Linked DNA regions of Homo sapiens. The protein of the gene in region 2 interacts with the protein of the main gene of each other region in a biochemical or structural test. Each region holds a gene or a part of one and is shown on either strand. Other genes may lie near its edges. The genes, in order: GLI3, MED12, VDR, ESR2 and APLP1.

What was found.
Region 1: the proteins of MED12 (region 2) and GLI3 form a complex in vitro, tested with the Homo sapiens proteins (one study listed by BioGRID).
Region 3: the proteins of MED12 (region 2) and VDR form a complex in vitro, tested with the Homo sapiens proteins (one study listed by BioGRID).
Region 4: the proteins of MED12 (region 2) and ESR2 form a complex in vitro, tested with the Homo sapiens proteins (one study listed by BioGRID).
Region 5: the proteins of MED12 (region 2) and APLP1 form a complex in vitro, tested with the Homo sapiens proteins (one study listed by IntAct).

The regions. Positions count from the first base shown.
Region 1 is NC_000007.14:42,023,957-42,027,834, reverse strand, and holds part of GLI3 (transcriptional activator GLI3), read left to right. Parts: intron 1-1,422; coding exon 1,423-1,636; intron 1,637-2,457; coding exon 2,458-2,571; intron 2,572-3,878. UniProt on the Homo sapiens protein: Has a dual function as a transcriptional activator and a repressor of the sonic hedgehog (Shh) pathway, and plays a role in limb development.
Region 2 is NC_000023.11:71,121,237-71,125,114, forward strand, and holds part of MED12 (mediator of RNA polymerase II transcription subunit 12), read left to right. Parts: intron 1-90; coding exon 91-201; intron 202-325; coding exon 326-580; intron 581-963; coding exon 964-1,110; intron 1,111-1,271; coding exon 1,272-1,371; intron 1,372-1,501; coding exon 1,502-1,638; intron 1,639-1,858; coding exon 1,859-1,990; intron 1,991-2,357; coding exon 2,358-2,484; intron 2,485-2,922; coding exon 2,923-3,152; intron 3,153-3,527; coding exon 3,528-3,608; intron 3,609-3,739; coding exon 3,740-3,878. UniProt on the Homo sapiens protein: Component of the Mediator complex, a coactivator involved in the regulated transcription of nearly all RNA polymerase II-dependent genes.
Region 3 is NC_000012.12:47,852,723-47,856,600, forward strand, and holds part of VDR (vitamin D3 receptor), read right to left. Parts: intron 3,080-3,878; coding exon 2,908-3,079; intron 1-2,907.
Region 4 is NC_000014.9:64,284,130-64,288,007, reverse strand, and holds part of ESR2 (estrogen receptor beta), read left to right. Parts: intron 1-3,878.
Region 5 is NC_000019.10:35,874,871-35,878,748, reverse strand, and holds part of APLP1 (amyloid beta precursor like protein 1 isoform 1 precursor), read right to left. Parts: intron 2,233-3,878; coding exon 2,133-2,232; intron 1,032-2,132; coding exon 924-1,031; intron 668-923; coding exon 641-667; intron 166-640; coding exon 95-165; intron 1-94. UniProt on the Homo sapiens protein: May play a role in postsynaptic function. The C-terminal gamma-secretase processed fragment, ALID1, activates transcription activation through APBB1 (Fe65) binding. Couples to JIP signal transduction through C-terminal binding.

The DNA.
Region 1 (3,878 bases), on a different chromosome or scaffold from region 2:
CAATGACTGTTTTCACCACGTTTCTGCTTTCCTTTATTAAGGAAATACAATGTAGAATGAAAGGAGAGTTTCTCAAAGCCTGGTGAAATTCTCCTAGGGTATTCTTAATGATATTCAGTCTTAAATGGGCAAGCTATTGTAATGTAAGGTTCTCTGCAGGAATGATAGTAATGTAATCCCATTGAAGCTGCCTGTTATGGATTGTAGTCAAATAGGCAAAATGTAGAGTCACATTAATGAACAGAGTATATCTTTGGAATTATTACTTAAAGTTGTTGAAATGGTTTGAATTTTGCTATTGTAATTATTTTATTCTCCTTTAATGCGCTTAATAGCCATAGTAATTAACCCACCAGATTGGAAATTTGCATGAGTTCTAACTTTGACATTACAAGAAACCCTGATTCTTTCTGGGTATTACACAGCAGGACAGGGAGAAATACATACATATATATATATAAATATTTTTTTCACTGATTATTTTTTTAAAAAGAAATTTCCATGAATGCAATTATTAGTTTTTCATGCATTTTTAAGCCATTGGCAAATTCCTTAAGAACACTCCATTCTTTTAAGAGGATTTGATTCCAGAACCACACTGGCACAAAGAATGATTTGGCATTGCCTGCTAGTCGAGAAATCTTTAGGTATTATCACTGCTTCCTCAGGACTTACTGTAGCCTGGGAAATAGTGTGGCATAATAAAGTGGTGACAGTCATTAGCATGCATAATGGGCTTTAATAGACATTAAATGCTGTTTAGCTAGAAGAGGGAGCAGTGCTCTCCCACTGGAATATTCCTCCATCGAAGCCCATTGATCACTGATTTCAGCGGGGAGAGGTTAATCCATCAGCTTCTGTAACCAGACGGCACTGATGGAAATTCTTTAGGTGGCATTCTGGATGAACCAAGCTTTCCATCTTTACAAACAAATGAGTGATATGACAAGCATGGTGTTCAAAACACATTTAACCAATTGATTTTCTTTCCTCTTGTAATAAGATCTGGAGACATATGAAAGCGTGCAGTGTGAGCTAAGATTAAAGGAATTGCTCCATGCACAGGAACATACGGAACTAAGAGCCAATAAAAGTCCTATAAAGCATGTAGTCACCCATTCTCTTTTTATATAAAGTTTGTTATTGCAATAAATAGTTATTATTGAACTGATGCCTTTTATTTCCGTTTTTGCAGAATCTTGTTTTAGGTCTGCGTGTATGTGTGCACACACATGTGTGTCTCATCTCAGTGTTCATCTTTCTCTTAGAAGTTTTCAAGATGCTTGGCAATAATCCTACCTTCTCATTTAAACAAATTTGATTTGGGATGGTAAAATTATAGATAGAAAGCTGCAGATCTTGTGTACTTGTCTGAGCTCAGCGTTTAAGTGATGATCGTCTTTTTTTATCTCCCCCGTGCAGCCCTGCCTTGAGCTTCACCTACTCTTCCGCGCCCGTCTCTCTCCACATGCATCAGCAGATCCTAAGCCGACAACAGAGCTTAGGTTCAGCCTTTGGACACAGCCCTCCACTCATCCACCCTGCCCCAACTTTTCCAACACAGAGGCCTATTCCAGGGATCCCTACGGTTCTGAACCCCGTCCAGGTCAGCTCCGGCCCTTCTGAGTCCTCACAGGTGAGAGGGACAGGTCGATGCACCCGGCCGTGCTGGTCAGCCGAGGGTGGGGGCAGGCCACCACGTCAGCTGTTAATCAACACGGCACCTCTGTGTTCTCACAGCCTCTGTACTAGCATCCTGTCTTCTTAATGCTGAGGTCTAGTCTTCAGTTTTGGTGGACGTGTTGTGTAAATGCTTCTCATCAAACAGTTTTTTCCCCCAGGGTCATTTTCCCATGGGCATAGCAGCAGGCTGCTTGATAAGGCTTCACTGTGACCTGGTGCCATCTGTAACCTGCATCCCATGTCAGTGCAGCATGTGGATGCATTGCTCTCATTTGGTCACTGTTCACTCCCTCCGCTAGAACCACAGTTGCGACTTACCACCAGGTGGTACTTTAGAGTAAGACTAAAACTGTGCTTTGCCCTGCGTTAACTGTTGCCACTTTGATATTGTTTGGAGAAGAATCTGGTTGCTCTAATTAAAGAACTTCACAAATGGAACGTGTTGGTCTTCTACCCTCCTCACAACTTTGTTCTTTTGAAATACCCTGTTGGAGCTTGTTAAAGCCTAGGGCCTCAGCTCCATTCTTCTAGCTTTTAAAAGCCATAGGGAGTTTATACTCACGAGTTAAAAATGAAGAGCTGCCGCATGAACGTATTTTCTAGCTTTGAACATACTATCTGAACTCTGCTTACACTGGGATTGGAGAATTATCAGAGTCATTGCTTTATAGCCAAATAAGACCGCTTGTCCCGAGTTGGCAAGGTTTTAATTATGGTACTGCTCCTTGTTGATGAAAATCTTTTTGTCTCTGGCTCTGCAAATGTGACCAGCAGAACAAGCCCACGAGTGAGTCTGCAGTGAGCAGCACTGGTGACCCGATGCACAACAAGAGGTCCAAGATCAAACCCGATGAAGACCTCCCCAGCCCAGGGGCTCGGGGGCAGCAGGTAGGACACCGAGGCCGCACAGGCCAGCGCCCACTCCTCCCAAGACTGGTGTCTTTGGGTCAGCTCCCGCTTCCTCCCCAGACCTGGTGTCTTTTTCACGGCAGTTCCTTGTCCACTGCATTGTTGACCTTGGCCGTACTCTACATGTTGTACAAAAGGCTAGATATGGAGTGACTAAATCATTTTTCTAGCTCAGAAGCAAACACAGGCAGTGCAGGAAGCCATGCGGGACATACCTTCTTGATAGTTTAGGCAGCTTGGGAGTATTGGCAACTGTAGTTCGTAGAGGAAATGGTTGCATTAATTTGTTGCTGGCCACAGGTGCGACCAGGCCTCAGTCCTCATCTGTGATTTTGGGCCTGAATTATTGAGCTCCTGGACCCAAGCCTGAGCTGTGGCGGATCTACTGATGGCTCCTATATCATTTTTTCTTATTTTGCTACTTCCCACTTTCTAGGAGAGCCTGGCGAACCAGAAGGGATGAAAACATAACTAACCTAAGGCTAGTTGGATTCTGGCACTCAGCCTAAAATTCTGAAAGGAAGAGTGTAGGATTTCAATCCGGACTCCGCCTCTAGTCACTTAAATTCTCTGGGCCTCAGTTTAAGGATGTGTAGGTTATACCCATAATATCATCTCATAGGGCTCTCAGCCTGATGCAGGAAGGAGCTCTATGAATGCTAATTCCCCACCATAGAGATTGGACAAGAGTCCAGATGTCCACAGAATCTGGACCTTGCTGTCATCAGGCTGCTTCAGCCCAAACCTCAGACTGCTTGCCCAAATTTCCTTTTCAGCAAGAACGTGGAGGCTGGAGTAAATTGTGTCACGGGCTCTGAAATGGATCTTTCCTCTTGCATATCGCCAGACAGCAACAACCTTGCTGGTTACACTTCAATGCCTGCATATGGCTTTTATCATCTAGCCCTGGATTGGGACCTGAATCTACACAAGATGAATTCTCAAAATGACTTGTATTGGCATTGCTGTGAAGCTGCCACAGGGGTTTAGGAAGGACTGTGCCCCTGAGCTTTGATGCTGTGGCCCCTGGGCCCTGGGTAGTGAGCATATCCTTAGAGATCAGAGGTTGAATCGAGAGGGCATTATCCCTATAAAGTCTACAAAAGTGTCTCACACAGTCTCCAACAGCAGCGAAAACAGCATTAGAAGTACTAGTAAACCATTTCCCTGGATTACAAAATATAAGAATAAACAAAGTAACAGACCAAAAATAATTAAAACAACTAAACAAAATAGAAGTACCAATCTTTTGGGTAAAGACCTGATTTGATTTATTCTCTTATGAG
Region 2 (3,878 bases):
CTTGCCCCAGTTGTGGTTCTCTTCATCTTTTCATTTACTTTATCTGCTTCATCTCTAATAGTCCCCTCTTCCCTCCCCTGGTACCCATAGGATGGAATGCTGGACAGACATGAGTTCCTGACCTGGGTGCTTGAGTGTTTTGAGAAGATCCGCCCTGGAGAGGATGAATTGCTTAAACTGCTGCTGCCTCTGCTTCTCCGAGTAAGGCTTGGAATTTTGGTACTGGTGGGGCAGGGGGAGTCTAAGAAGAATTTGAGGAAGAATAAAATGTTAGAGCAGGGTCCCCTGGAGAGAACTAGGGGCTCTGATGGTCGTGTCTTCACAGTACTCTGGGGAATTTGTTCAGTCTGCATACCTGTCCCGCCGGCTTGCCTACTTCTGTACACGGAGACTGGCCCTGCAGCTGGATGGTGTGAGCAGTCACTCATCTCATGTTATATCTGCTCAGTCAACAAGCACGCTACCCACCACCCCTGCTCCTCAGCCCCCAACTAGCAGCACACCCTCGACTCCCTTTAGTGACCTGCTTATGTGCCCTCAGCACCGGCCCCTGGTTTTTGGCCTCAGCTGTATCCTACAGGTAGGTACTAGGCGGGCCCAAGGAAGCATTGAGAGATAGCCTGAGAAGAATCAGGTGCCCATCCCAGAGAATAGGGGTAATTCCAAATTGGATGTGGGAGTAGGTGCTGAGTACTTGCTTGGAGGTTGTTGTTTCTTGGTAATGGGGTGTTAGTCCCCTTTGGGGGTTTTCACCAGCCTCTCTCTCCCTTCCAAGGCTAAATAGTGGGCCCAAAGCCTTTTAGGAAAGTGAGTGAAGGGAGGGGATCGGGGTGGAGTGATGCCTGTCTTGGGGACCCAGTCAGAATAACTTTGGATCTGGAATCTACGGGTTGGGTCTTAGAATGGGATTCCAGAGGGGTAACCATGGTGAATGAGTTGGACTTAGCTGTTTCTATCTGGTAGACCATCCTCCTGTGCTGTCCTAGTGCCTTGGTTTGGCACTACTCACTGACTGATAGCAGAATTAAGACCGGCTCACCACTTGACCACTTGCCTATTGCCCCGTCCAACCTGCCCATGCCAGAGGGTAACAGTGCCTTCACTCAGCAGGTATGTCTGACCACTAGCCTGGTACTCTCAGATTGGGCTATGAGGCTAAATTACTCTTTCAGAAGTAGTGATTTGGAGTCTAGTACTATTCTTCTAGCCTGGGGCTCTGGCCTTTTATATGCCTTGGTACATCCTTGTAGCCTTCCTTTTTAACATTGCAGGTCCGTGCAAAGTTGCGGGAGATCGAGCAGCAGATCAAGGAGCGGGGACAGGCAGTTGAAGTTCGCTGGTCTTTCGATAAATGCCAGGAAGCTACTGCAGGTATGTGTCAGAGAACAGATAATAGGAAATATGTTTGAGGAAAGGATGGGGATAGTAAGGACATGTAGATCTAAGAGCCAGAATGCACCGGGCCTCTGGTTCAGTCCCCTTTACCACTTTTCCTCCTTAGGCTTCACCATTGGACGGGTACTTCATACTTTGGAAGTGCTGGACAGCCATAGTTTTGAACGCTCTGACTTCAGCAACTCTCTTGACTCCCTTTGTAACCGAATCTTTGGATTGGGACCTAGCAAGGATGGGCATGAGGTAAGCGAAAAGGGGAATAGAAGGAGCAAAAAACATTGCAAGAGCAATAATATGTCTGAGAGGGAAGTCATGGTGAGGCATTGAAAGCAGAGCATATCTGCAGAAATGATCTTACTGGGCCCAGGATGTTTTATGATAGAGCCCAGTCTTTAGGAAATTGGAACTCATTTCTTTGTCCCCACCCCTACCTTACTCCTCCTTCTCTTCCTTTGTTCTCCAGATCTCCTCAGATGATGATGCTGTGGTGTCATTGCTATGTGAATGGGCTGTCAGCTGCAAGCGTTCTGGTCGGCATCGTGCTATGGTGGTAGCCAAGCTCCTGGAGAAGAGACAGGCGGAGATTGAGGCTGAGGTTAGAGGGCAGAGATAAGAGAACAAGATTGGCCAATGGGAAGGAATTTACTGCGGTTGGAGACCGAGAGATGGAGGTGGTGGAGGGACCAGAGTTGAAGGTGTGAGAACAGAGTAAAGAAGCAAAAGAGAACCTAAAGGCAAAGTTACGGACGTGAGGCGAAAGTAGAGAAGAGTGGATTGTAGTAAGAGTTAGAGATAACATCAAGGCTTCAGTTGGGAGGTGGTAAAGAACATGGAGGTCAGCAGGGGAATGAAAGTGAAAAGCATGGGGTAGAGGTCAAGCAGGTGGTAGTTTAAGGCCTACACATTGAGGAGTGAAGAAGCAGGTAAAAGTCAGTTCTACAATTTGTTCTGTCATCTTGCAGCGTTGTGGAGAATCAGAAGCCGCAGATGAGAAGGGTTCCATCGCCTCTGGCTCCCTTTCTGCTCCCAGTGCTCCCATTTTCCAGGATGTCCTCCTGCAGTTTCTGGATACACAGGCTCCCATGCTGAGTACGGACCCCTACCACTCTCTAGTTACCTCTGCCTAGACTCAGTTACCCACCACTGTCATCAGAAAGCATAATTAACAGCCCTCTGGTCTATATTTCTCTCTTGGGCTCTATGCAGAATGACTTTTAGATGTAGTTCTAGTGATCCTCTTTAACTGGTCATCTTACAGTTAAACAGAGTAGAGAAATACAGAGAAGGATAAAAACAAGAGCTTGTGATTGAAGCATTTTCACTGCATAAATCGCAACAAAGATGTTACATTCCTTTCTGAGATGATGTGTGGGACAGCATGTGGGGTAACCAACCACACTTTGTCCCTCAACAATTTCTGGGATTTCTATTTGATCACTCTTATTATTGCCTTAGGTGTGTCCCTCTCTCTTTTGGCCCACCTTTTTGTGTTCTCCTAACTTATGTTTCCTCATTCCCTTCCTCCAGCGGACCCTCGAAGTGAGAGTGAGCGGGTGGAATTCTTTAACTTAGTACTGCTGTTCTGTGAACTGATTCGACATGATGTTTTCTCCCACAACATGTATACTTGCACTCTCATCTCCCGAGGGGACCTTGCCTTTGGAGCCCCTGGTCCCCGGCCTCCCTCTCCCTTTGATGATCCTGCCGATGACCCAGAGCACAAGGAGGCTGAAGGCAGCAGCAGCAGCAAGCTGGAAGTGAGTGGGCTTTTCCTTGCACTAGATCGTTTCTTCTGACATTTCCATCTTCATGGCTCCCAGGGGCCTCTAAGAGCCTCTTTTGCCTGGGGGAGGGGGGTAGTATTTTTCTTAGCACTTGGTGATTGACCAAGCACTCTCACATCAATTGTTTCATTGGTTCCTCCCATCAGCCTTGTGAGGTACTCTTATCCCCATTTTCAAACTGAAGAAAACAGAGGCCTATACTGGTTAAGTGATTGGATGAGGCTTGACTCCAGATCCTGTGCTTTCCCCAATCTGGTCTTCTCTCTCCACTTCCCCAATGAAGTTTTACAGATGGTGGGAGCCACTCCCTAGGGCTAAAGCAACTTCGCTTATGTTCTATGCCCTCAGGATCCAGGGCTCTCAGAATCTATGGACATTGACCCTAGTTCCAGTGTTCTCTTTGAGGACATGGAGAAGCCTGATTTCTCAGTAAGTTCAATCCTGAGCGTGGCAGAATCTGGATCCTTGGATCTTCCCATTATGCCTGCTTTTGGCATGTTTTTTTGCCCCCTCATCCACTTTCCTTCTTCTCATGTTCTGCTTTCTCACCTTTCTCTCAGTTGTTCTCCCCTACTATGCCCTGTGAGGGGAAGGGCAGTCCATCCCCTGAGAAGCCAGATGTCGAGAAGGAGGTGAAGCCCCCACCCAAGGAGAAGATTGAAGGGACCCTTGGGGTTCTTTACGACCAGCCACGACACG
Region 3 (3,878 bases), on a different chromosome or scaffold from region 2:
AAACTGGAAAGTTCTGGGTTTAGCTCTGTGAATGACCATCATCTCACTGGCAAGGCATTAATTTCGGCAATAACTCATGGCTTTTCTACACAGCTAAGAGGGCCATACACCAATATATGGCACCTCATAATCTGTTTCCATCCAGAGCCGGCAATGTTAACTCATTTTCCAGCTCCCCATATTCCAGCACTGAATCTGAGCATTAGTATCTAGGAAGCATTTTGCCCCTTCTGCCGTAAATACAGCTATTGCTGCTACTTGAAAGACAATAACATTGCTTGAGATTGATTTACTTCTCTTTCTCAACCATATTGTTTATGTATTTTATGGCAATATACCAAATGAACTTTGGGGAAGAATGAAGATACAAATATACATAAATATAGCCATTTCCCAACACATCTATTAAATGTGTCAATACTCTATTGTTTTAAGAATATTGGCCGGCAGTGGCTCATGCCTGTAATCCCAGCACTTTGGGAGGCCGAGACAGGCGGATCACGAGGTCAGGAGATCAAGACCATCCTGGCTAACACGGTGAAACCCTGTCTCTACTAAAAATACAAAAAAATTAGCCGGGCGTAGTGGCGGGCGCCTGTCATCCCAGCTACTCGGGAGACTGAGGCAGGAGAGTGGCGTGAACCCGGGAGGCGGAGCTTGCAGTGAGCCGAGATCATGCCACTGCACTCCAGCCTAGGCGACAGAGCGAGACTCTGCCTCAATTAAAAAAAAAAAAAAAAAGAATATTGGCCGGGCGTGGTGGTTCATGCCTGTAATCCCAGCACTTTGGGAAGCTGAGGCTGGCAGATCACCTGAGGTCAGTAGTTCAAGACCAGCCTGGCCAAGATGGTGAAACCCCAACTCTACTACTAAAAATACAAAACTAGCCAGGCGTGGTGGTGCGTGCCTGTAATTTCTGCTACTCAGGAGGCTGAGGCAGGAGAATTGCTTGAACCCAGGAGGCAGAGGTTGCAGTAAGTTGAGATCGCGTCATTGTACTCCGGCCTGGGCAACAAGAGGGAAACTCTGTCTCAAAAAAAATACAAAAAATTAGCCAGGCATGGTGGCACGCTCCTGTAGTTCCAGCTACTTGGGAGGCTGAAGCAGGAGAATTGCTTGAACCTGGAAGGCGGAGGTTGCAGTGAGCTGAGATCGCGCCATTGCACTCCAGCCTAGGTGAAAAGAGCGAAACCGTCTCAAAAAAGAAAAAAAAAATTAACACTGCATGAGTATTTAAATATAAGTATTATATACAGTACTAGTGTTAAAACAATGAAACATAGGAATAAATGAATGAAATTTATATGAATGAATTGATAAAGGAGGATCCCTTCTCCAGTAGAACTCCTTATACTTATATATTTTGGCAAAAATGTATCAGTATGGTTAGGAAATGGTCTTTATTTTTTTCTTTTTTGAGACAGGGTCTTGCTCTGTTGCCCAGGCTGGAGTGCAGTGGTGAAATCATGGATCACTGTAGCCTTGACCTCCTGGGCTCAAGTGATTCTCCTGCCTCAGCCTCCCTAGTAGGTGGGACTACAGGCATGTGCAACCACACCTGGCTAATTTATAATTTTTTTTTTTTGTAGAGAAGAGGTCTCACTATGTTGATCAGGCTGGTCTGGAACTCCTGGGCTGAAGCAATCCTCCTACCTCAGTCTCTCAAAGTGTTGGGATAGGCATGTGCCACTGTGCCCAGCCAGGAAATGGTCTTTAAATGTACATTTTGGTGAAGGATGCCAGGGTCATATATGCCAGTAAACCTATCTCTCTCCAGGATTCCTAGACTGTTTCACAAGTCTACATGGCCAAGCCCTTCTCTCTATCACTTCATTCTGCTCTCAGAGTTGGGGTGTGGAGGAATCATATCGTTGAATTTAAAGAGATAATATGAGGATTCCAGTCAAGCCAGCTGGAGTGAACACAGCAGTGAGCTGGGAGTTCTAGGCCTGGCTCTGACATGCTGGCTCCAACACCTGGAAGGGATCCTGGCTGGCCATTGGACCTCTCTGGGCTTCCACACCATCATCCAGAAAGTGCGGGGATGGACTAGCTCTCCAGTGCTGGCCTGCAGAGTAACGCAAGACAGGCTGCACTTTCTAAATACAGATTTCTGGGCCTACGCCAGAGATTCTGATTTCGCAGGTCTAGGGTAGGGTCTGAATCTCTATTTTAAAGAAGCAATGGAGGCTGGCTGCTGTGGCTCATGCCCGTAATCCCAGCACTTTGGGAGGCTGAGGTGGGTGGATCACTTGAGGTCAGGAGTTTGAGACAAGCCTGGCCAACATGGCGAAACTCCGTCTCTACTAAAAATAAAAAAATTAGGGCAGGGCGCGATGGCTCATGCCTGTAATCCCAGCACTTTGGGAGACCAAGGTGGTTGGATCACGAGGTCAGGTGATCGAGAGCAGCCTGGCCAACGTGGTGAAACCCCGTCTCTACTAAAATTATAAAAATTAGCCGGGCTTGGTGGCCCACACCTGTAATCCCAGCTACTTAGGAGGCTGAGGCAGGAGAATCACTTGAACCCGGGAGGCGGAGGTTATAGTGAGCCAAGATAGTGCCACTGCACTCCAGCCTGGGCATCAGAGCGAGAATCTGTCTGGAAAAAAAATAAAAATAAATAAATAAATAAATAAATAAATAAATTAGCCGGGCGTGGTGTCTGGTGCCTGTAATCCCAGCTACTTGGGAGGTTGAGGCAGGAGAATCGCTTGAACCTAGGAGGCGGAGGTTGCAGTGAGCCGAGATCGCGCCACTGCACTCCAGCCTGCGTGACAGAGCAAGATGCCGTTTAAAAAAATAAAAAATAAAAAAAAGAAGTGGTGGATGAGTGATCTCCAACCCTTCTTGTAGCTCAGTCTAGGACTCTGACTCTGTTCCCCAGAGATTGCAGAAGTTTCTTACCTGAATCCTGGTATCATCTTAGCAAAGCCAATGACCTTTTGGATGCTGTAACTGACCAGGTCAGCCAGGTGGGGCAGCATGGAGAGCTGGGACAGCTCTAGGGTCACAGAAGGGTCATCTGAATCTTCTTCACTCAGATCCAGATTGGAGAAGCTGGACGAGTCCATCATGTCTGGGAGAGATGAGGGAAGAGAAGGAGCTATTTAAGGATACTTGGACCAGGCCCCCTCCTGCCAGACCCTGCAAAAACCTGGTGTGCCCTGGCAGCAGAGCCAGCTGGGAATCCCACAGTGACTCCACAGGTCACCCTTCAGCCCCAGGCTTCCCTCTGGGACTCTCTCTGCCTCTTTCAGCAGCATAAGGCAGTAAAATCAAAGAGCCAGAGACACTCAGAGCAATGAGACTTCCTCAAGCAGACTGTGTGCTGTTCCTATGGATCTCAATCAAGAAAGAATTTGGGACCCATCAAGTCATGGAAAAAAATGTTCAACCTTGCTAATGGTCAAAGAACTGCAGTGTAGAACATCTATAATTTTCACCTACAAACCAGAAACAAAAATGTTTAAATATTGATGCCAGTATTTATAAAGATGCAGGAAATTAGGCAATGCCTATGAGGGCTGGGGTGCTAAAGGAGGTGCACATTACTGAAGGTACTCTAGAAAGCTATTTGACATTAGTCAAATAATTGTGTGTACTCTTTGACCAGTAGTCACACTTCCTGGAATTCATTGTAAGGGAAAATTTCCGATAAGTGTAAATATTTGGCTACAAGTATACTGTTTTCTTATTAAAATGCTGAGAAATAATCCAGATATCCAATGGTAGGGGATTAGGTACATTATTGTATTCCAGAATACTATGCAGCCCTTAAAAATTATATTCTGGATGCGTACTAACTGGTATGGAAAAACAATGCCATATAAAAAAAAGCAAGTCATCAGATTGTATACAGCACAATTTCTTTTCTA
Region 4 (3,878 bases), on a different chromosome or scaffold from region 2:
TGAATAATTCTTAGAATCAGGATGTCTGGGTACTGGTTCTTTGGTTGGCCAGGTGAAATTCCATGCCAGGCCCAACAATTAAACTCTTTAGAGACAATTTTTTCCTGTTGTACCAGAACATTGTACTGAGGCCATGTTTGAACATTCAATCGATGTGTTGGGAAAACTCTGCCCTACAATGTTAAAGAAATTAAATCTTTTGGGGAGTCTTTCCTTTGACCAGTTTATATCTCTGTTTTAGAGGAGGGCTTCTCAACCAGAATGGGTTTGTTGACTTATTTTTACAGACCTCTGGTAGAAAGGAGGTCTTTTTTTGCTACCTGTTCTCCTGTCTCAGAGAACTATTACAATGGTGTAAGTTCATCATTTCTTCCCCTTATTATGGCTCTGCTTAGGAAGAAAAACTCTTTGCATTGGCTACCAAGTACCTAACTATTCAAGATGCCACTGACAAAGAGTTAATCTGTGAATCATGTGAATCTGATATATCTGAAATATATCCAAACAAAAAGCACCTAGCCTTTTAATGACTCTCCAGAAGTCAGTTCTCTAACTTTAATTATCATCCTTCTGGGGATATGTGGAAATTCTACAGAAGTTGATTGGTGATATGTTGAGATGTGAGATCTGTATTTTCTAAGCAAAGTTGCCATGCACCTGATTGATTGGCTAGGTGTATCCTGGCATTTGTCATTTGTTGGTGGGGTCTGATAGTTGGTTTCACCACTGCTGGGTACCCAGAGTCATCACATCCATAGAGACAGAATGTAGGCTGGTGGTTGCCAGGGGCTGGGGGAAGGGAGGAGTGGGGAATTTGTTTAACAGAGAGTTTTAGTTTTGCAAGATGAAATGAGTTCTAGAGATTGGTTGCACAATAATGTGAATATCCTTAACACTACTGAACTTTATACTTAGAAATGGCTAAGATGGTAAGTTTTATGTTACATGTATTTTAACACAATTAAAAAAGAAAAAAAAAAAAACAACTTCAGGCCAGGCACGGTGACTCACACCTGTAATCCCAGCACTTTGGGAGGCTAAGGCGGGCAGATCACTTGAGGTCAGGAGTTCAAGACCAGCCTGGCCAACATGGTGAAACCCCATCTCTACTAAAAATACAAAAATTAGCCTGGCCTAATTGTGCATGCTTATAATCCCAGCTAATTGTGAGGCTGAGGCAGGGGAATCGCCTCAAACCCTGGAGGTGGAGGTTGCAATGAGCCGAGATCACACCACTGCACTCTCCAGCCTGGGTGACAGAGTGAGATTTCATTTCAAAACAAAAAACCACTTTAGAAACTGCTAGTTTTGGCAATAGTTATCACTATATGTTTTATCCTGCATATTTTCTGTTAAGAATAAGGAATTGTTTATGTTGATCAGGAATCTAAGTAATTAAAATACAAAATTCTGGCTGGTGGCTCTCGCTTGTAATCCCAGCACTTTGGGAGGCCAAGGCGGGTGGATCATTTGAGGTCGGAAGTTCAAGACCAGGCTGGTCAACATGGTGAAACCCCATCTCTACTAAAAGTACAAAAAATTAGCTGGGCATGGTGGTAGGCACCTGTAATCCCAGCTACTAGGGAGGCTGAGGCAGGAGAAGCACTTGAAGTCAAGAGGCGGAGGTTGCAGTGAGCCAAGATTGTACCACTGCACTCCAGCCTGGGTGACACAGCGAAACTCCATGTAAAAAAAAAATGAAATATAAAATTCCATACTCATTATTAATTACATATAGTATTAAAATAAAACCCAAACACCAAACCTTCCTTGATCCTATATCCTTCTCCAGCTACCATTCTCTCTCCTCTCCTTGGTCCAAATTTTTGATTTACAATGTTGGTTGGAAGTGGTACCACTTTGGTGTTAGTTCCTTATCATTTTACCTGGTCTGTCCTGCCTCTTCCTGGTACATTAGCTCCCTGAAGGCAGGGTGTATGTCCCAGAACTCCTTGAAGTCCCTTTTCTCAGCATACTACCATGCCTACTGCAGCACCCCCCATCTTTAATGTCCTTGACTTGGTGAAATATTACATTTTGAACACATTTCCTCACTTCCTTATGACAAATATTGATTGAGTTTCAGTGCAAGGTGAGTAAGAAATGGTACTTGCTTTCAAGGAGCTAAAAATCTGAATTTCCTTTTTTTTTTCTTTTTCTTTTTCTTTTTTTTTTTTTTTTGAGACAGAGTCTCACTCTGTCACCTGGGCTGGAGTGCAGTGGCACGATCTCAGCTTAATGCAGCCTCCGCCTCCCAGATTCAGTGATTCTCATGTCTTAGCCTCTCGAGTAGCTGGGACTACAGGCATGCACCACCACGCCTGGCTAACTTTTGTATTTTTAGTGAAGATGGTGTTTCACCATCTTGGCCAGGCTGGCCTCAAACTCTTGACCTCATGTGATCCACCCACCTCGGCCTCCCAAAGTGCTGAGATTACAGGCATTGACTTTACTTCTTACTCTCCTATGCACCTCTATCATTTTGAAGAAGGGTTCAAGGTAGTTCTGATAAGCAGGATTAGGTTTGTATGTAAGTGATTAAAGGGGTGCTATGAGCAAAAAAAGTGTGAAGGTATAACAAGCCAACCACCTCACAATGCAGTTTGCATGTTTCTTAATGGACATAGCAGGTTTTCTGTAAGAAAACAGCAGGAGATTCGTGTGGAATGATGGGTTGAGGCAACATAGTGGCATCCCTTGAATGCTCGAAGAATGTGACTTAGAGTTTGGTGGGAAGCAGAGAGCTGGGTTTTAAGAACATGAATCTGACAACTCTATGGATCTGGAGGAGAAGCTAACTGGGGACGAGGAGCAGTAAGAAGCCTGTTACAGATGCACTGATAAGAAGTAATGAGAGCTGGCCGGGCACAGTGGCTCACGCCTGTAATCCCAGCACTTTGGGAGGCCGAGGCGGGCAAATCACAAGGTCAGGATTTCAAGACGAGCCTGGCCAACATGGTGAAACGCCGTCTCTACTAAAAATACAAAAAGTTAGCTGGGCGTGGTGGCGGGCGCCTATAATCCCAGCTACTCGGGATGCTGAGGCAGAAGAATCGCTTGAACCTGGAAGGTGGAGGTTGCAGTGAGCCGAGATTGCGCCACTGCACTCCAGCCTGGGTGACAGTGCGAGACTCCGTCTCAAAAAAAAAAAAAAAAAGTAATGCGATAATGAGAGCTTACTTCAAGATGGCAGCAAAAGACAGTGGAAAAAAGGCATTGGGAAAAAAAGCCAATGTGCCTTGATGAGTAAAGTTAACTGAGTCAAGGGGAGAAGTCAAAGGTAACTATGATGGGCTTTTTCTATTAACACAAATAGGAAATGAGTGGTTTTGGGAAAGAAAGTGATGAATTACCCCTCAGATATTGTATTAATTGTCTATTACTGTGGCCGGGCATGGTAGCTCATGCCTGTAATCCCAGCACTTTGGGAGGCCGAAACAGGCAGATCACTTGAGGTCAGGAGTTCGAGACCAGCCTGGCCAACACGGTGAAACCCTGTCTCTACTAAAAATACAAAAATTAGTGTGGTGGTGTATGCCTGTAATCCCAGCTACTCAGGAGGCTGAGACATGATAATTGCTTGAACCTGGGAGGCAGAGATTGCAGTGAGCTGATATGGCGCCATTGCACTCCAGCCTAGGCAACAAGAGTGAAACTCCATCTCAAAAAAAAAGATTTGCCTGTAATCAGCCAGCACCCCCAGCCTTGTGCTCACTTTACATACAAAAATTCTGTTTTTTAGAGCATAAATTGAAGGGCACATTCAAAACTGATACGTAGGCCAGGCATGGTGACTTATGCCTGTAATCCCAGCACTTTGGGAGACCGAGGCAGGTGGATCACTCGAGATCAGGAGTTTGAGACCAGCCTGGCCAACG
Region 5 (3,878 bases), on a different chromosome or scaffold from region 2:
GGAATCCAAGCCCCCAGCATCTCCTCCCTCGTACCCAGCCATATAGGCCCCGATCTTGTTCCCCTTAGGGAGCCCACAGTTCTGACTAACTTACCTTTCGCTCATACTGTTCCAGCGGGTTCATCTTCTCTTTCTCAGGGGATGCAGCATCTTGTTCTGTGGACCCTACCCCCAAGTCTGATCTCATTCTTTTTTTTTTTCTTTAGACAGAGTCTCACTCTGTCACCCAGGCTGGAGTGCAGTGGCATGATCTCAGCTCACTGCAGCCTCAACTTCCTGGGCTCCAGTGATCCTTCTACGTCAGCCTCCTGAGCAGCTGGGACTACAGACATGCCCCACCACACCCAGGTAATTTTTAAATTATTTGTAGGTACAGGGTCTCATTATGTTGCCCAGGCTGGTCTAGAACTCGTGGCCTCAAGGGATCCTCCTGCCTCAGCCTCTGAAAGTGCTAGGATTACGGGTGTGAGTCACCAGCGCCTGGCCCTATCTCATTCTTTAGGGTCCAGAGGAGGGGGCTGGAAAGTACATCAAACTCTACCCCAGGGGGTCTGAGGTTCCCAATGGATGGACCCTGTTTCCTTCTGGGTTCAGGGATTCAGTGGGATTTGGAGGCTGGGGTTAACTGTGAGACACTCACCTTTTGGAAGGGTCATGGGGGTGTCTGCTGGCAGCCAGAGGAAGCAAGGGAGTGGAACAGTGAAGAGAGGAGGGTATCAGCAAAGAAAGGTGGAGAAACATCCTTCCAGGGACTAAGAAGGAGGATTGGGGATCCTACAGAGGCCCCTGCAACCTTAGACGTTCCTCCTCATCCTCTCCCAGTCACTGTGGTGGTGAAGACACCCTCAGACTCTAGGGGATTACAAATTAGGCTGGGGCCTGTTCCCTAATGTCTGGGGTCATCTATATGTGGGCTCACTCACCATCCTTGGAATCTGGAGGCTGCAGCCCACCCTTGTCCTCGCTGCTGCCCCCAGGGGCAGGGGCTTCCAATTCACTGGGACCCAGGTGTTCAGAGTGGAGGAGTTCCTCTGAGGGGGACATGCAGAAAGGTGGCTGAGGTAGTGAGCATAGGGGTGAGTGGAGGGCACCCTACCAGTAGAGCAAGTGGGAGATCATGCAGACAGCAGAGTCAGCCCCAAGTGTGGGGTAGCCAGAAGTGTGATCTGAGAAAGTGGGAAGCTGGATGGAGGCACTGCTGGCAGGAAGGATGGAGGCTGAAGTTTCAAGATTATGTTTTTTTTTTGTTTTTTTTTTTTTGAGACAGAGTCTCACTCTTGTTGCCCAGCTGGAGTGCAATGATGCGATCTCAGCTCACTGCAACCTCCACCTCCCGGGTTCAAGCAATTCTCTTGCCTCAGCCTCCTAAGTAGCTGGGATTACAGGCAAGCGACATCATGCCCGGCTGATTTTTGTATTTTTAGTAAAGACGGGGTTTCACCATGTTGGCCAGGCTGGTCTCGAACTCCTGACCTCAAGTGATCCACCCGCCTCGGCCTCCTAAAGTGCTGGGATTATAGGCGTGAGCCACCGCGCCTCAAGATGATAGCTTTCTTAAATACTAGGAGAATCAGGGTTATGTGTGAGATATCCAGGAGAAAGACACAATAGATGTGGGGGCTGCAATAGGTCACACTTTCCGGTATGCATATAGGTTCCTTCCCTTGAATCTGGACTGAATTTGTAACTTGCTTTAACAAATAGAATGTGGGCCCAAGCCTTAAGACCTAGCAACTTCCACTGTGATGTCTTAGAGAGCATAAACCACCATGTAGGGAATCTAGCTACCCTGCTGATGAGACCACATGGAGAAGCTCCACGGAGAAGAGAGGCCTTGCGCTTCCTTGGAGAGAGAGAAAGGTCCATTTGTGCTAGACTCCCAGCCCCTAGATGATCTGCTAGCTAAATACAGCTGCATGCTTGACCACTGGCAAGACCACTGAAAGAACCACTCTGCTGAGCGCAGACCGGATGGCAGAATCATGAACAAAGAAAAATCATTGTTGATTTTCACTGCTAAGGTCTGGGCTGTTTGTTATAGAGGAATAAATGAAATTGGGGGGGCCCAACATTTAGGAGTCAAGATCTGCCCTCAGAGATCTGTAATGGGAGCCAGGGTAATAGACACTCACGGATTTGGGGCCGCAGCTCCTGAGCCAGGTGGGGGTTCTGGTCAAGCAGGCCCAGGCTCTGATTCACCCTCTCCTCAATCACTTGAAGGTGGGTATGCACCTGTGGGTGAGTGGACATGAAGGATGAACTGCGCAATGCAGGCTGGAGATGAGGAAACTGAAGCAGTATGAAGGAGGAATTCAATAGCGACTGAGGAAAAGCGGCACATGCAATGGACAGGATGTGTGGTACAAGGGTTAGGAACTGGGCCATAGGAGAAGGAAATTGAAGAATAAAGTCCAAGGAACAGAAAGTGGGGTTTGAGGGGATTCCAGAGACAGAGATTGAGGATTGGAGGGTCATATAGAAATGACATGGTTCAAGGCAAGATTTGGAGTTCAAGAGCACAGAATGGAGTTTCATAGACAGGAAGAAAACATCCAGGAAAGGGGAATTCAAATTTGAGCGCACAGAACAGGGGTTCCAGGGAAAACAAGTGAAGTTATGGAGAAAGGAGGTTGAGGGACAGGAAGAGGGTTCAAGGAACAAGAAGGAGATTCTCGACCGGGCGCGGTGGCTCATGCCTGTAATCCCAGCACTTTGGGAGGCCGAGGTAGGCAGATCACCTGAGGTCAGGAGTTTGAGACTAGCCTGGGCAACATGGCAAAACCCTGTCTCTGCTAAAAATATTAGATTGGTGCAAGTTATTGGGGTTTCTGGCCGGGCATGGTGGCTCACGCCTGTAATCCCAGCACTTTGGGAGGCCGAGGTGGGCAGATCACCTGAGGTCAGGAGTTCGAGACCAGCCTGGGCAACATGGCAAAACCCTGTCTCTGCTAAAAATATTAGATTGGTGCAAAAGTTATTGGGGTTTCTGGCTGGGCATGGTGGCTCACGCCTGTAATCCCAGCACTTTGGGAGGCCAAGGCAGGCAGATCACCTGAGGTCAGGAGTTCAAGACCAGCCTGGCCAACATGCTGAAACCCGTGTCTACCAAAAATACAAAAATTAGCTGGGGCCGGGCGTGGTGGCTCACACCTGTAATCCGAGTACTTTAGGAGGCCAAGGGTGGATCACCTGAGGTCGAGTTCAAGACCAGCCTGACCAGTATGGTGAAACCCTGTCTCTACTAAAAATACAAAAATCAGCCAGATGTGGTGACACCCGCCTGTAGTCCCAGCTACTCAGGAGGCTGAGGCAGGAGAATAGCTTGAACCCAGTAGGCGGAGGTTGCAGTGAGCCCAGATCATGTCACTGCACTCCAGCCTGGGAAACAGAGCGAGACTCTGTCAAAAAAAAAAAAAAAAATTAGCCCAGTGTGGTGGCAGGCTCCTGTAATCCCAGCTACTCGAGAGGCTGAGGCAGGAGAATTGCTTGAACCCAGGAGGTGGAAGTTGCAATGAGCCAAGATCGCACACTGCTCTCCTGCCTGGGCGACAGAGCAAGAACCTGTCTCAAAAAAAAAAAAAAAAAAAAGACGATTCTGGGAAAGGCAGTGAAAATCCAAGGGACAGAACATAGGATCGACGGCGGGGGGAGTAGGAATCCAAGGGCCAAGAAGCAGGGGTCAAAGACACAGCATGTGAGGGTCCATGTTTCAGGGTCAGGAAGCTGAGCTGAGAGACTGGGAAGGGGCAGAGAAGCGGTGTTCAGGGGATAGGAAGGGGTCCAAGAGACAGAAAGAGGGTCTAAGGGACAAGAGAAGAGCCTGAGGCGCGGGCGTCTGAGGAATAGCGGCGCATTTGGGAGCTGGAAGGATGTGAGCA